2 separate regions of the Homo sapiens genome follow, and region 2 is linked to region 1. The links come from fine-mapping of genetic effects on gene expression. A gene starts in region 1. The other region holds a variant in brackets. All regions are shown on one strand. Distances are from middle to middle.

What was found. PIP is the estimated chance that this variant, and not a neighbour inherited with it, causes the effect.
Region 2: its variant is fine-mapped to the expression of LINC00570 in tibial artery (GTEx, PIP 0.92).

Annotation. Positions count from the first base shown.
Region 1 is chr2:11,392,268-11,395,178 of GRCh38, reverse strand. It overlaps LINC00570 (long intergenic non-protein coding RNA 570), which reads right to left and starts at 1,198. Exons shown (of 3, transcript NR_047499.1): 1 at 1,008-1,198.
Region 2 is chr2:11,401,166-11,404,076 of GRCh38, reverse strand. LINC00570 (long intergenic non-protein coding RNA 570) reads right to left here. Exons shown (of 3, transcript NR_047499.1): 3 at 1,000-2,052. Among named protein-coding and RNA genes, the nearest start is that of LINC00570, 8.6 kb to the right of the region's middle. The variant GTGGTGGTGT/T (reference allele first, on the strand shown) is at 1,442.

The DNA of each region.
Region 1 (2,911 bases):
TGGTGCCCACTCACCAGGCATCATGACAGAAAGTGCAGTGCTCAAAGTCACACTGAAACAAATGCATTCTGGCTGTAAAAGGATGGGTTTGTGGGGATGAAGCAAGGCAGGGCAAGGTTGAAGGAAATGCTTCCAATCATGAATATGTAATGGCAATTGCAAGCAGAGAATTTGCTTGTCATTGATACCTAGTTGAAGCCATCAATAATAAAAAACAAATTTTGACCAACTGTGCTAAGGAAAAGACTGAATTAACTTTATAATCTCTTTATAGAAACAGAAAATACTACCACAAAACCATTGCCATAGGAAGAAGCTACTAAAATGCATGCAGCCAAAAAATGTAGGAAAAAGGTATTAGAAGCATAGAAGACAATTAATAAAATGTAGTACATTATTTTTCTAGATTTTGTGATATTTGTAGTATTTGTTCAGTTTTTCTTTTTTCTTTTTTCTTGAGACAGGATCTCACTCTGTTACTCAGGCTGGAGCACAGTGGCGTGATCACAGCTCACTGCAGCCTCAACCTCTCAAGCTCAGGTGATCCTCGCACCTCAGCCTCCTGAGTAGCTGGGACTACAGGCGTGTGCTACCACGCCTGGCTAATTTTTGCATTTTTTATAGAGGTGGAGTTTCACCACGTTGCCCAGGCTGGTCTGGAATTCCTGGACTCAAGTGATCTGCCCGTCTCCACCTCCTGAAGTGTTGGGATTATAGGCATGAGCCACTGTGCCTGGCCCAGTTTTTCTTTTTAATTGTAATTTGTTGTGATTTTTTTCTCCTAAGTAAATATCCCCTTTTATATTTGATGTGTTTGTAAATTTGTATTCTTCTTTCTTAAAAAGGACCCTCCACACTGAATAAGCTTCAGGCCCCACAACACCCAGATCCACTCCTGAATGAATATTATTATTACTAGTCAAAGTATTATTTTATCACATCCATGAGGGAGATAGAATTGCCTCTGTTTTACAGAAAAGTAAAGGCCAGGAGATGAAGTTGCTTACTCATTCTGACTCTGAATGCTTTTCCCGCTAGATTCTGGAATCTTCAGGCTTCTTGGCGCTCAGCCTGTTCGTTGATCCCCCTGCTGCTTCTACCACCCAGATCCCAGCAGGGAAAGCCAGAGGGAGACTAAATAGGAAGAAGAAGCCTCTCTGAATAAGCTGAGAAGGTTCCATAACGTCCCACTCTTCCGCAGCCCGTGGTCAGGGAGCTGGGGTGGGGGTGGGAGTGGCCGCACAGAAACCAAAAACCAACTGGCCCAAACAACCAGCTTTTGCAGGAAGGCAGAACAGGCAGTTAGGGGCTCCGGATCCCAGGCCAGGACCCTCGGACCTCAGTTAACGGCTAGTGTAGCTGAAGCCTGACGTCACCAACAGAGACAAGGAGGAGAGTAGGGAAGGATTACATATCTGTGGTTCTGATTTCCTGAAATAGTCCAGCCCTGCATGAAAGGTCTCTGTGCAGAGTCGGAGTCTAATCCAAGTTCAGGATGGCCACTAAGGGCACCTGATTTATCACTTATCTTTAGCCATGGGCCATGAACATTCCTTTGCTAATCAAGGCTGTTAACAACCCCAAAAGCGTTGCGTCTTAGAGCAGAAAGAATCCCAAGATCACTGAATCCAGGGATTCTTAGGTCCACCCTGAAGAAACAGAGAATCAATGAGTGACACTTCCAAAAGCTCAATGCATGCAATTTAAACTATCATTTTGGCCAAGATATATATTTTTCTGTTGTTAAAATGTCTTCAGTGAAATGATGGAAATAATGGTGGTGATATTTGCTAGTATTTATTGAGTGTTGCCATGTTCTGGGCATTGTGTTAAAAAGCCTTGCACAGTGTATCTCAATCACCATAAGAACCTTAAGAGAAAGACACAATTTTGGTTTTTTTTGAGACAGAGTCTCTGTCACCCAGGCTGAAGTGCAGTTGCGGGATCTTGGCTCACTGCAACCTCCGCCTCCTGGGTTCAAGTGATTCTCCTGCCTCAGCCTCCCAAGTAGCTGGGACTACAGGCACACACCACCATGCCCGGCTAATTTGTTTATTTATTTATTTATTTATTTTCTGGAATGGAGTCTTGCTCTGTCACCCAGGCTGGAGTGCAGTGGCGTGATCTTGGCTCACTGCAGCCTCCGCCTCTCGGGTTTAAGTGATTCTCCTGCCTCAGCCTCCTGTGTAGCTGGGATTACAGGAACCCACCAGCACACCCAGCTAATTTTTGTATTTTTTGGTAGAGACAGGGTTTCGCCATGTTGGCCAGGCTGGTCTCGAACTCCTGACCTCGTGATCTGCCCACCTCAGCCTCCCAAAGTGCTGGGATTACAGGCATGAGCCACTGCGCCTGGCCTAATTATTAACCCACTTTTTCTTCTGAATAAACTAAGGCTAGGGGAGATCAAACTGGTACAAGTCACACAGCAGCATGTCACAGAGTTGGGACCTGAACTCGGCAGGTCTGATTTCCTTGTGCCCGCTCTTAACTGTCACATCGCCCTGCCTCTGTAGATTAAATGCAGTTTTCAATTCTGACATCCTGATCTCCCCAAGTAAAAGTGTGGTGGCCGGGTGTTGCAGCTCATGCCTGTAATCCCAGCATTTTGGGAGGTTGAGGCAGGCAGATGGCTTGAGCTCAGGAGTTCGAGACCAGCCTGGGCAACAGTCTGTGAATCCCTGTCTCTACAAAAAATACAAAAATTAGTTGGGCATAGTGGCATGTGCCTATAGTCCCAGCTCCTCAGGAGGCTGAGGTGAGAGGATGGCTTGAACCTCAGAGGCGGAGGCTGCAGTGAGCCAAGAATGTGCCACTGCACTCCAGCCTGGGTGACAGAGCAAGACTCTGTCTTAAAAAAATAGAAATTTAAAAAGTGTGGCAACCCTGGGTTGGAACCTTGTGTTTTCTT
Region 2 (2,911 bases), 8.9 kb before region 1:
ACCTCAGTGAGAGATTTGCCGGTAGGAGGGGGCCACCAGGCAGGAGCTGAGAGAAACACAGCCATTGCCAGACCCACAGAGTGAATACCTCATAGCTCTTCCCTCCCAGCCCCTCCCATTTCCTGTTGGTGCCTCCCATAGGGCAATTACGCGCATTGCCTGCAGTCCATGAGGTCAGCTTCCCACAGCTGAGGGCCAGTGGAGAAGGGTGCAGAGCAGATCCGGAGGAAAATGGAAAATACCCAGCTGCGATCTGCTGTGTCCTGATTACATGGCAGGAACCATACTAGGGACTAGGTGGTTTCGCGTAATCCTTGCCGTAGTGCTGTGTAGTAGAAACAAAATCTCAGATGGCCAACTCAGATGTATAAGGAATGAAGCAGGCCGGGCGCGGTGGCTCACGCCTGTAATCCCAGCACTTTGGGAGGCCCAGGCGGGCGGATCACGAGGTCAGGAGATCGAGACCGTCCTGGCTAACACGGTGAAACCCCGGCTCTACTAAAAGTACAAAACAAAATTAGCTAGGCGTGGTGGCGGGCGCCCGTAGTCCCAGCTACTCGGGAGGCTGAGGCAGGAGAATGGCGTGAACGCGGGAGCTTGCAGTGAGCCGAGATTGCGGCACTGCACTCCAGCCTGGGCGGCAGAGTGAGACTCCCTCTCAACAAAAAAAAAGAAAAAAAGAAATGAAGCATTTGGCTTCACGCAGTGGCTCATGCCTGTAATCCTGGCACTTTGGGAGGCCAAAGTGGGTGGATCATTTGAGGTCAGGAGTTTGAGACCAGCTTGACCAACATGGTAAAACCCCGTCTCTACTGAAAATACAAAATTAGCGGGGCATGGTGGCCGCACACCTGTAATCCTAGCTACTCGGGAGGCTGAGGCAGGATCACCTCTTGAACCCGGGAGCGGAGTTTGCAGTGAGCTGAGATGGTGCCATTGCACTACAGCCTGGGCAACAAGAGTGAAACTCCATCTCAAAAAAAAGAAATGAAGCAATTATAGTTTTTTTAAGTATATAATTTAATTTCCAAATGGAGCCTCCATTCTGCTAGGTGGCAGAAATTTTATGTCAGCTCATGGTTTCTTCAGCCAGTTCTGGATCCCAGCACAGCCCAACTCCTTGAAAACGTCTTCCAGGAGCTTTGTGTGTGTCCATGTGGCTTCCCAAGTACCCAGTCACCAGCTGCTTCTATCCATGGGTGCACACTGACATCTCTCAAGGCATCCTTCTTCCCATCTGGTCTCTTGTCATTGGATCAAATTAATGAGTGCCTGTCCCAACTATGTGATCTCTCTAGGTCCTATTCTCTTTCAACCCTCTAGGGAACTCAGGAAACATTGGGCTATTGTCCATAATGTGGTGATGGTGGTGGTGATGGTGGTGGTGGTGGCGGTGATGGCAGCGGCAGTGGTGATGGCGATGGCGGCAGCGGCGGTGGTG[GTGGTGGTGT/T]CACCCGAGGCTGCCTTGGTCCAGCCAGCACGCAGCCTTCTCTATTCATTCTCTCTTGTGTGGACCCGTGGGGGAATTCTATGAGTCTTGCCACTTCAGGGCTCCACTCAGAAGGCAAGGTGAAGTCTTCTTTGGAGCCAGATTCCCAAATGGATCTGGAGTCTCCATTACACACAACCCCCTAGGGGTTTGACCCAGAATCCTCCTCTCAGGGTCATGTGACAATATCTACCCAACCCTCTTGCTTCTTCTCTCCTCCCTCTTGACTCTTTTCCCACCCGCCTCCTGCCATTGACTCCAGCCTATAGAATCTTTAAACAATCACTGGCGTATTGAAAGAATGGCTCTGGGTAATTAGGCATATTTCTGTTTCCAAATCTACTGTTTATGCATAAGCTTTATTCTCCAAGGCTTGCAAGAATAGGATTTTAAAGTTGAAAGGCCTAGATTTTTGCAACCTAAAGCTTTTTCTTTAAAAAATATTTTTTTTTCTTATGTCTGACATGAGAAAATTAGGAGCTCAAAAATTGAGAGTCGCCATCTTGGTTGTCTGCCTTCTCTGGTGGCATCCCTTTCCTGGGGTAGTAAGCCTCAGCTGCCACCTGAAAAAGAAGGATCTCAAATTACAGGAACTACCCAATATGAAAACCATAGCAATAGTTAATGCAGAAATGGAATCATCACGAAGATAATGCAGCTTAAATTTCAGGCCTCCCTTGGAAGAGCTGCTTCCCCAACCTTGGGAGGACTCAAGCAATAGATTAACATGGTTTTTTTTGTTGTTATTGTTGTTTTGGGTTTTTTTTTTTTTTTTTTTTTTTTGAGACAGAGTCTCACTCTGTTTCCCAGGCTGGAGTGGAGTGGCACAATCTCGGCTCACTGCAAGCTCTGCCTCCCGGGTTCATGCCATTCTCCTGCCTCAGCCTCCTGAGTAGCTGGGACTACAGGCACCCACCACCACGCCCGGCTAATTTTTTGTATTTTTAGTAGAGACAGGGTTTCACCGTGTTAGCTAGGATGGTCTCGATCTCCTGACCTCGTGATCCGCCCGCCTGGGCCTCCCAAAGTACTGGGATTACAGGCGTGAGCCACCGTGCCCGGCGCAGCATGTTTTTAAAAAATATGCAAAAATCAAGATATAATATTTTAACAATTCCTGAAGCCCACATCTCCCACTCAGACTTCGTTTCCACCACACATCTGCTTGTATTGGGTGGTGATGCGGCTCTTTGGGGCTTTAGCCGAAGGGAAGTCGAACTGGGTCTACACAGTAACATCCTCAGCCTGGACTAGGGCAGTGCACACCCTCTACTTTCAGAAGCTCCTCTCTTGTCCTTCTCTAGCTGCATTTCTACCCTAAGGGCAAGGAGTCTACAGGGCCAAAGGGAGCTTCACCCTCTTCCAGGCTACTCCTCAGGTGCGGCAGCCATGGGAATCTGCCTCTCAGAGCTTCCTTGAAGA